Regions from separate parts of the Homo sapiens genome. Here region 2 is linked to region 1. Evidence: fine-mapped expression QTL. A gene starts in region 1. The other region holds a variant in brackets. All regions are shown on one strand. Distances are from middle to middle.

Region 1 (5,368 bases):
ACTAATGCCTGAATTCTAATCTTTGAGAGTCCGCTGTAACAATAAAGCCACCAATATGGTTTTGTGGATTGTGTTTATTTTTTGAGACAGGGTTTCATTCTGTCACCCAGGCTGGAGTGCAGTGTGTGAACACAGCTCACTGCAGCCTTGGCCTCCCAGACTCAGGCCATCCTCCCATCTCAACCTTCCAAGTAGCTGGGACTCCAGGCACACACCACCATGCCTGGCTTATTTTTGTATTTTTGGTAGAGACGGGGGTTTCCCATGTTGGCCAGCCTGGTCTCGAACTCCTGGGCTTAAGCCATCCACCCGCCGTGGCCTCCCAAAATGCTGGGATTACAGGCGTGAGCCACTGCACACAGCTTAATATGGTTTTAATGTACAGCCAGAGTTGGAATCCCCACTCTAGAGAGAAAAAAATGTGAAGAAGCAGTTGAAATGAAGAACCAATGAGGTCTCTTTCTCGTGAGCACAGAACCGTATCTGTCTTCAACACACATTTCTCTGTGTCCCACCCAGAACAGCCAGGAGTCCTCCAGAGAAGAGAGGAGAGACTCCCCACTCCCAGATGAAGTGCTCCGTCCATGCCGTGATGCTCACCATGGACAGCCGCAGACCAAAACCACCTCCAAGCAGCTCCATGCTCTTATTTCCTTCTCACCACAGAGAACTGGGCTAATCAAAGTATAACAGCAGAAATCATTTTACCCATCTCTTCTTTAAAAGCCTTTCAAAAAATTGCTGAATGTCACTTTTTCAAGTTTGATGTGCTAGCAGGGATGGGCTCAGTTGGGGACCCTCAAGGAGCGTATTCCCATGAGAAAAACCTCAGGATGTGCAGACATTGCCTTCCAGTTGGTTGTCTAGAGAACTTTGCCCTAAGGATGAGCATCCATTTAGACACTTGAAGCAGCTGCAGTCAGGCTCAAAAGCAAACTTAACCCAGCTTAAACTTACTGAAAGGAGGAATTATTCAGGACTGAAGCCCTACCAGGCCCCATGGTAACCCTTGCACCTGAGCGGTGTTCTGTGGTTGTTTGCAGAGAGTCACTCGTGTTTGATGACTTCCACACCTCTTGGGTCCGTGTGACCCTCCCCCTATAATCAGCTTCAGGAGGCATTTAGGAGATTATCCTCCTGCCTCTCCAGCTGCCCTATACACCCCTGCACAGAAAGCATTTCACAAGTTGTTCCCATTCAACTCTGTTCCATCATAATCCACTTTTCCCTTTTTGTTAATGGTAAACTGTAATAATGGACCACATGTGTAGAGAAGGAGCTGCCAGGAGAATCTCCAAGCTGGTACCCTTGATTATTGCTGAGGGGAGGGATGATGGGTGATTAGCATTTCCTCCTCTGGTTTATTTGTATCTTATAATTGTTTAAAAATGAACATGTACTCTAATGGTAAGAATAAAGTTTTTCTATTTCTATAAGGGGCATCTCAATGCCTTGTATTTGTGCAGTATGCTGTTGGTCTTCAAGAGGGTCCAAATGTCCCACTTACTTGATTGGAATTCATTCTTGAAAGATCTGGGTTATGGAGCAGTGGGAGTGGTCAATTGCACTTAACCATCACCTAAATTCACATATGTAATGAATTCCAAATTTGAACATCTGAACTTTCAAATGGCATCATTTTTTCTCTTTGCACATTTGGTCGATAGATGAAAGAATTGATTTACTAGCAAATCCATCCAAAAAACCTGAATGTTTTCGAAGGACTGTGAATGAGAGGCATGGGGAGCAGTTCACAAGTCTTGGCATCTGGGCACGTTGGCCCATCTCCCTAGTGGGGTAGTTTGTTTTGCTGGTGTTGCTGAGAAGGAAAGTCCCCCAGAGCACTGGAGGAGGCGTAAGGGAGGGTGTGTGGAATGCACCAGGGCCAGGTAGGATCACCTGATAAAATGCCAAACTTTACATGGGACATACTTATACTTCAGAAAATAATAATTCATTGTTTATCTGAAATTCAAGTTCAACTGGGCAACTTGAAATTTCATTTGCTAAATTTGGCAACACTAGGCCTGGGTGATCCTCTTCCCTGCCACCCACATTCCCCCGGTTATTGCCAAACTAATGCCACAAGGATAGCACTATCTCTCTTTCCCATTTGTTCCTCCCTGACCCTGCCAAGACCTCTGCCCCACTGTCATAAGGCCACCTACCTTTTTCACATCTGGGACATTATGAGTTTTCTTCGTGTGAGCAGCCCAACCCACTATCCCAATGTCCAATGGAAACACAACTTCTTTGTCAGGGCCCACCAGGTTGTCCTCAAACTTGGAGGTGGGGGTGACATCCAGCAACCTAGAGGCCACCTCAGGTATGCCGTTCCGGGACCGGCACAGGAACATGCTGCAGCGGTCAGCCTGGAGCAGGTGGGCCAGCCTCTGCAGGGCCCTGTGAACCCCCTGCTCTGGGGTGCCCCCCTCCTCCTGCACGGTCCACAGCAGCTCCAAGCACAGGGCTGACTCCTCCACCTGGGTCAGCTCAGAGAAGGACATGCTGGACTGGACTGGCACCTGGCTGTTCTTGAAGATTTCTCCCAGCACCTCCACCCGCAACTTCCTGTCAAAGTACTCCTTGGCAAACTGAGGGTTCTCCTCCAGGTATTTCTCCACGGCAACTTGGTTGATCTCACCCATGGTGTGGCTTGCTTTGCTGCGTTTGTTCAGAAAGGACGACCTTCAGAGCACTACCTGAGGCAGAGTGATGAGAAGGAAATTCATCCTGGTGGAAATTACTGAGGAAACCGTAAATGGTCCCTCATAGGACTTCCAAAGGTCAAGCAGAAAGCAGAGCTTTCAAACTGCCTGTAACTCTTGGGATGTGACAGAAGGCCCTGGCTTAGGGTGGGATTCAGGAAGCACAGGATTAAAGAGTTCTTCAGGACACTAAATCCCTGAGCATTAGTAGCTCATAAGTCCCTAGCGAATCTTCAGAGTATCTTAGATCAGCCCAGCAAGTAGCAAGCTGAGGTGTCTATTCCAGAAAAATAACTGAATGTCGGCTGCTGTCCACAGCAAGGAAGAATCACTGACATATCCATGAATGACACGACATTGGCAACAATTGGCACTTTGAATCGTTCTTGTATGATAGCTATAGGAAGTAAAACTATTTAGACCTCGGAAGTGCTTGGATTTTTTTTGTTTATATAGCAACTGTAATGAACATCTGGGAGATATGGAACAGTTTGCATCACTGCAACATAAAGGTGAATATTAATCTTTCCTTTTCTTAAAAGTCTTTTGATCACCAAGGTTGCTTGGCCTCCTCTTTCTCTAGAACCTTCACCTCTCAATCCCTGTCACTTCAGAAAGCTTGACCTCAGAAGTGTTTTAAAGGAGTAAACCTCAAGCTTATTACTAAAGAGGTGAACATAGCAAAATATTTGCCAATGATCCAAACCTAATCAAGTCATGAATTGAATAATAACCCTTGTCGAGAGACTGTAATTACAAAAGGTAACCTACATAGTTGCTGGCTGGGTTTTTCTGCTAAGTATCTTAGTTAGGATTTTGTTTTCAATAGTAATAGCCAGAGGTCATGCGATTTTGCTACAACATACAGTCTACTAAATCTACTAGATGATAGATATCTTGTCTGTTGCTAGGATCCTTAACGTCTCAGGGGCTACTGGCATAGAAAGAACACTTACCACTACTTAGTTTTGTTTAATGTTCACTTTACTAAGCTTTTACATCTATTAAACACATTTCCTCAAATATTTAAACACTATTATGCAACTAATAATTCAAACTATTAATTCATGAACCAATTGCCTTCGATACTTAAATGTTGGTTTCAAACTTAGTCAAGGTGTTTTAAACACTTCAATAAAGCTACAAACCTAATATGACAAATTCTCTTAAGTGGAAAACACACACATGTTACAGTGACTCTAAAAATTATTGTTACACCCACATTTAAGTTTGCTTCAAAAATAGAAACCCTATGAGTTTCATTGAGTTCTCTAAGATTTACCTCTCTAGATAGTAATCTTTTTCTTTTTTTTTTTTTTTTTTTTTGAGACTGAGTCTCGCTCTATTGCCAGGCTGGAGTGCAGTGGTGCGATCTCAGCTCACTGCAACCTCCGTCTCCTAGGTTCAAGTGATTCTCCTGCCTCAGCCTCCCGAGTAGCTGGGACTACAGGTGGGTGCCACCACGCCCAGCTAATTTTTGTATTTTTGGTAGAGATGGGGTTTCACCATGTTGGCCAGGCTAGTCTTGAACTCCCAACCTCAGGTGATCCACCTGTGTCAGCCTGAGAGATAGTAATCTTAATAGTCACAAAAGAAAGAGAGATCCGTTGAGGTTGCACATTCCCTGTCATGAATTGAGAGATTCTTGGTGGGAAACATGGTTTTCCCAGGGGTACAGAAAGAGTCATTTGTTGAGTTATGCCACTTCTTGTGATTGAGCTTCACCTGCTACCTCAAAGCACCTTGTCAGGTGCACATATTTTCTTGGACTGTCCTATGTCACACTCAACTCTACTCTCAGGAGGTTCCTCTTTGGGTGACTATTTACTTCATAACACCCTGTTATTATAAATAGGATAATGCAGAAGTGTATTTCCCAGGAGAGAGTTGAGTCAACTGAGTCACCCCTCCTATGGGACCATCTTCCTTATCTAACAATTTTGGACACTCTTTTTTACCTAGTTATTTTGTGTGACTCATGGTACAGTTCCTACTTCTCCTGTAAGTATGTGGTGTGCTCACGATTTCCTGGTTTCATCCTTCCCTCTTGAAACAGAGAGGGAAAAACACATATTTGCATTTCATATACAGACTTATACTTAATAGAAAAAGAAAAAACAAAATGCCCATATATGTTCAACTTTCATAATCTTTTTTTTTTTTTTTTTGAGACAGAGTCTTGCTCTATTGCCCAGGCTAGAGTGCAGTGGTGCGATCTCGGCTCACTGCAACCTCTGCCTCCTGGGTTCATGCCATTCTCCTGCCTCAGCCTCCCGAGTAGCTGGGACTACAGGCTCCTGCCACCATGCCCGGCTAATTTTTTGTATTTTTAGTAGAGACGGGGTTTCACTGTGTTAGCCAGGATGATCTTGATCTCCTGACCTCGTGATCCACCCGCCTCGGCCTCCCAAAGTGCTGGGATTACAGGTATGAGCCACCGTGCCCGGCCCATCTTTCATAATCTTATAAAAGTGAATATTAATTTGAAAAAGAAACATCCTATTATAGTCAGCATTCTTTTGTTTTTATAACTAGTTAGAGATTCATTCATTTGTTCATTCTTTCTTTCTTTTTTGTTTTTTTGAGATGGAGTCTCCCTCTATTGCCCAGGCGCGATCTTGGCTTACTGCAACCTCCGCCTCCCGGGTTCAAGCGAATCT
Region 2 (5,388 bases), 86 kb before region 1:
AAAAAAATTTTTTTAAGTTTGCCAGGTGTGATTATGCACTCCTGTAGTCTCAGCTACTTGGAGAGGCTGAGGTGGGAGGATTGATTGAGCCCAGGAGGTTGAGGATGTGAGCCATCAAGGCGCCACAGCACTCCAGCCTGAGCAATAGAGCGAGACTCTCCAAAAATAACTGGATAAATAAAATGAAACAAGAGAAAGCTGACTAATCCAAAGGGCAAGGTGGTTTACCTTAAAGAAACTCAAAAGAAAATGGAAATCTCTACATATATTGAAAAAGATTACAGGAAAATTTTCATCAATTGATGATGTACTGTTCACAAATACTGTAATTCTCCTGGAATATAGTAAATCATATTCCAGAGAGGAAATTTGGAGTAATTGAAATTGTGGGCGCAGGAATCAAGTACAGCAGATTAGCCACTTACTGGATTTGTAAATAGATTTACTTAACTTTGATTACTTCATTCCTAAATGAAGATAACTTTCTAACTTGCAGAATTAGAAGTGTTGTTTGTAAAGTATTTAACACAATGTCTAGAACAAAGTTGGTGATAAACACACAGTGATTATTACTACTCTGAATCAAAAGTGAAGGATTGCTAAACCTTGTAAGCAGTCACTGCAGCTTTTAGGCCTGGTTTTTCAGTGAAAAGATCAAAGAGTAGCCTTCTTTGTTCACCTAATGATAATTAAGGGTGAAAAATGTTGATGCATTTCCTGAAAGGTATGTCTCTTATTTAAAAGCGAATGAAAGTTTTAGATGGCTAGATGGCCTGTGAATAGGAATCTGCCCACAATGATCCTTTAAAACTATTGTGGCTGTTTAAGATAACTTATTTTTGAATTATTGTTTCCTGGACAATTGGCAACATAGATTCTAAATAGCTGACTTTGTACTCCTTTACAGATGCATGGTCATGGAGGCTATGATTCTGATTTTAGTGATGATGAACGCTGTGGAGAATCCAGCAAAAGGAAAAAAAGGTAAGTAATTTTTTTTTATTGATCTATTTTTCACATCCTTTCTAGATTAATATGAAGTATAAATAAACAAGAGTGAAATTTTTGAATTCTGTTTACATGTGAAGACAATTGCTCTAGTGAATGAATTTTTGTTCATTAAGCTAATACATTGATTAAAAATTGGAGAACAATTGTGGGAAAAATAAAAATTAATTCTGCAAAGGGGTTTATTGAAAGGGAAAGAAGAGTTTCAGATTTCTGGAATCTTTTCAGAAATCAGTGAAACCTTTTCATTACATATATTTTTCATTCAACTGTCAAGGACTGTTTATTTGTAAATGTTGTAGCTCAGAAGGGGCTTGAATGGTGGTCTCTTGCCATTACTTGCCTTCAAAGTGAAGTTAATATGGAGGATGAAAGTATAATGCAGCACAGTTCTTACGCATACGTGAATGAGCAGACTAAGGTCACGGGAAGAAACTCAAGGAAGGTTTTTTTGAATTGCAAGAGACAAAAACTCTTAGCACATAAAGCCTGTGCGTTATAAGCAGGATACGTCTTGGTGGAGCTGCTGTGCGTAGGAGCATTGTTCTTAGCTTTCAGTGCATAGAAACTCAGTTTTATACTTTGACTCAGGAGTGGTTGACTGATGTATACTAACCAAACTTACACGGCTGTTGACTGATTTTTTTAAGCAAATGTATAGAAATTGGCTTATTATTTCACACTGAGAGCAATATATTAGGCATACTAACAGGTTCTGAACATTTTTATAGGATACTCAGTCTCTGCAATAAAGGATAGTACTAATTATAATAAATTACATTTTTGATGCTTTACATTTTCTAGATTTTTCATTCAAAAATACTACTTTGTAAGAATAGAATTTGAGCAAATCTAGTTGGATACTCTGCTCCAGGATTATATTCATCACTATAACTAGGGCTGACAGTCTATGGCAGGGTGTCCAGTCTTTTGGCTTTCCTGGGCCACATCGGAAGAAGAATTGTCTTGGGCCACGTACTACAGTGGAGCACACACAATTGTGAATCTGTTGGTTCACATTGTTGGCCTGAAGCAGTGCTGGGCCTGCGTAAAATACACTAATGATAGCCAATGAGGTTTAAAAAAATGTGAAAAAGTGTCTTAATGTTTTAAGAAAGTTTACAAATTTGTGTTGGGCCACATTCAAAGCCATCCTGGGCCACATGAGGCCCATGGGTTGGGCGAGCTGGATCTGTGGTTTGTGTTCTCTATAATCAGCCTTGCTTTTTGTGTATCATTAATTACCAAAAACTTCCTTATCACTATGTTACAGATAGAGAAATGAAGAAACAAAGAGATAAATAATTGAATCTTATTAAGATTAAGGTAGTAATTGACAGAATTAGGATTTGAATCAGGAAGCTAGGTGATATGACACTAGAGTCCATGCTTTTGTTAGTTTCATCTTCCCCGTGTTATAGGTATTAAAATAATGTTAAGGTATTAATTAAGCTATTTAAGGAAATGTAAAATATCTCATTAAAGATCAGTGAGTCTTCTTAAAGTTAAGACTTACATTCTTTAAAGTATATTCCAGTTATGAAAATATAAAGAATTAGAAAATAACCTTTGAAAAAAGTGAACTCTTATTTTCTTCTTAATATATCAGGACAGTTGAAGATGACTTACTGCTCCAAAAACCATTTCAGAAAGAAAAACATGGAAAGGTGGCCCATAAACAAGTTGCAGCAGAATTGCTGGATAGGTATGGTATTTCAGTGTCAATTCTATTTCTTGGTTTAAGTTGCTTCGGATTAGGGGATTTGATTA[T/C]GTTAATTTGAATATAAACATTTTGAATTTTCTTAAAAAAATTTGTTTTAACAGGGAAGAAGCAAGAAATAGAAGGTTTCATCTCATAGCTATGGATGCTGTATCCTTTTTTTATTTCCAGATTTTTATAACTAGTAGAATATTTTAAAATCTGCTTTTTTGTTTTATAAAATCTTGTGAAGTCAAATAGGCTTTTTTATTTTTAAAGATAAGTATTTAGTGATGTAGGATTTTGCCATTTATACTTTTGGGTACAATTCTCTTTTACTAATATATAGGAAAGATTTAGAGACAAAAATAATAAAACATATTACTAGTACTCTATAAATAGGTTTATAAAGTACATGAATCTGCAAATATATTTTCCAAATTGTTTTTTCAAGCTTTCAACATTTCCTTTTCCTATACTTATCTTTAGTCTCATTTTAATTTATTCTCTTCCTACCTGGTTCTTTGCTATTTAAGGTCTCTATAAAACTTGTATTTAAAATTAGGTCTATCCAGTCTGTCCCTGGATCTAAGGAAAAAATAAAAATAAAATGAGGCCTGCCTGTGGACTGTCCTCAGGCCTGCCATGGCTTTAATTTTTAGGCATGACTTAAAGCTATCTTTAAGATAAACCCTGCTTCCTGGTTATAGCCATTTGTCAACTCAGTTTTTTAATAAGACTGGCTGATGACACTAACTGCTACGCTGGCCATCCATACTGCTGTTGAGAATATTGGAGAATTTAAGAGATACCAAGCAAAAACTGAAGTATTTTTGGGTATTTATTGCTGTGATCAGAATTGGGAGAAGGAGACAGTGTCAATTTGATACGCCCCCTACCTGTAATCATCTGTTTCACTGTGCTATTCCAATATTTTTCTTTTAAGTTATAGAAGTACCATTGTGTCACTAATTGATTTATTCTTCTTATCTCCTAACCCAATAGCTAGCTTTTCCATGGATCTCATCTGCCATTTGTTCCTTTAGCATTTAAACATTTGCTCTGCCTTCTCTGACACCTACTGCATTGGGGGCACCTAGTTATAGCCTGGTGAGAGTGAAAGTATGGGTACTCTTTTTTCTGGCATAGGAGGAGTTGGAGCCACAGTTTTTTTTGTTTGTTTGTTTTTTGTTTTGTGTGTGAGGATTTATTTTATTTTATTTTTCTTTATTTTATTTTATTACTTTAAATTCTGGGATACATGTGCAGAACGTGCAGGATTGTTACATAGGGTATACATGTACCATGGTGGTTTGCTGCACCTATCAACCCATCACCCTCACCCTTCCCCGCCCACCGGCTCCAGTGTGTGATGTTCCCCTCCCTGTGTCCATGTGTTCTCATTGTTCAGCTCCCATTTATGGGTGACAACATGTGGTGTTTGGTTTTCTGTTCCTGTGTTAGTTTGCTGAGGATGGTGGCTTCCAGCTTCATCCATGTCCCTGCAAAGGACATGATCTCATTCCTTTTTGTGGTTGCATAGTATTCCATGGTGTATATGTACCACATTTTCTTTATCTGGTCTATCATTGATGGACATTTGGATTGGTTCCATGTCTTTGCTATTGTGAATAGTGCTGCAATAAACATACATGTGCATGTATCTTTATAATAGAATGATTTATATTCCTTTTGGTATATACCCAGTAATGGGATTGCTGGATCAGATGTTATTTCTGGTTCTAGGTCCTTGAGGAATTGCCACATTGTCTTCAATAATGGTTGAACCATTTTACATTCCCACCAACAGTGTAAAAGTGTTCGTATTTCTCCACAGCCTTGCTAGCATCTGTTGTTTCCTGACTTTTTAATAATTGCGATTCTGACTGGGAACCACAGTTTTCTCTGGGTTGTTTGACAAGAGTAGAGTAGTTATTGTCTCAAAGTTGTCTTGCTAGGCTGACTCTTGGTCATTTGGTTAGAGAGAACAGCTTTTGTTGACGATTTTTTAGTCCGTGCCTGTTGGTGTTTCCGGGTTGTCACCTTCTTTACCTCCAATTCTAGGATACATGAGACAAAAAGAAAACCTAGGGAACTCGCTATCATGTCATACCATAGGTCTTCAGGAGGTCCCTAGCGGGGCGCCTTCTTCCTTCCACCTTTTAGAGTCTTTTTATGTTTGATATATAATGTATAAGGATTTTAGTTGTTATTAGTATGAGGAATAGGGAGAAGTACATCTTTGCCTACTCCATCTTCCCGGAAGCAAAAGTTACACCCACCACCTGTTCTTGTACATAAAATTATATTGGAATACAGCCATGCTTCATTTATATGTTGTCTTTGGCTGCTTTCATGCTAAAATGGCAGAACTGAGCATTTGCAACAGAGACCATATGGCTTGCAAAGCCTGAAATATTTACCATCTGGCCGTTTGCAGAAAATGTTTGCTGACCCCAGCTCTAATAGGTTACATGACTTGCCATGGTCATGTGACCAGTTAGTGGTAGATCAAGAGCTAGAATCCAGATCTCCAGGTATTTGGTTTTTCTGTCTCTCTCTTTTTTTTTTTTCCTGAAATATTAACTGGTTTGTTACAATATGGAAATACCATAATCTGATTAAATTGTCTGTTAGTACACATTATGATCAGTTAAATCACTATACATGTTTAATAGTCA

Direction of the effects. Alleles are on the strand shown, and positions count from the first base shown. SD is a standard deviation of normalised expression in the study named.
In carriers of allele T in region 2, the expression in breast of the gene that starts at base 2,837 in region 1 tends to be lower than with C alone (small effect, 0.36 SD a copy in GTEx).

Evidence for each region. PIP is the estimated chance that this variant, and not a neighbour inherited with it, causes the effect.
Region 2: its variant is fine-mapped to the expression of PDE6C in breast (GTEx, PIP 0.94).

The regions. Positions count from the first base shown.
Region 1 is chr10:93,610,006-93,615,373 of GRCh38, reverse strand. It overlaps PDE6C (phosphodiesterase 6C), which reads right to left and starts at 2,837. Exons shown (of 22, transcript NM_006204.4): 1 at 2,169-2,837. The coding sequence starts at 2,648.
Region 2 is chr10:93,695,626-93,701,013 of GRCh38, reverse strand. It overlaps FRA10AC1 (FRA10A associated CGG repeat 1), which reads left to right. Exons shown (of 14, transcript NM_145246.5): 2 at 908-984; 3 at 2,618-2,713; 4 at 2,833-2,878. The coding sequence starts at 908. Among named protein-coding and RNA genes, the nearest start is that of FRA10AC1, 4.3 kb to the left of the region's middle. The variant T/C (reference allele first, on the strand shown) is at 2,779.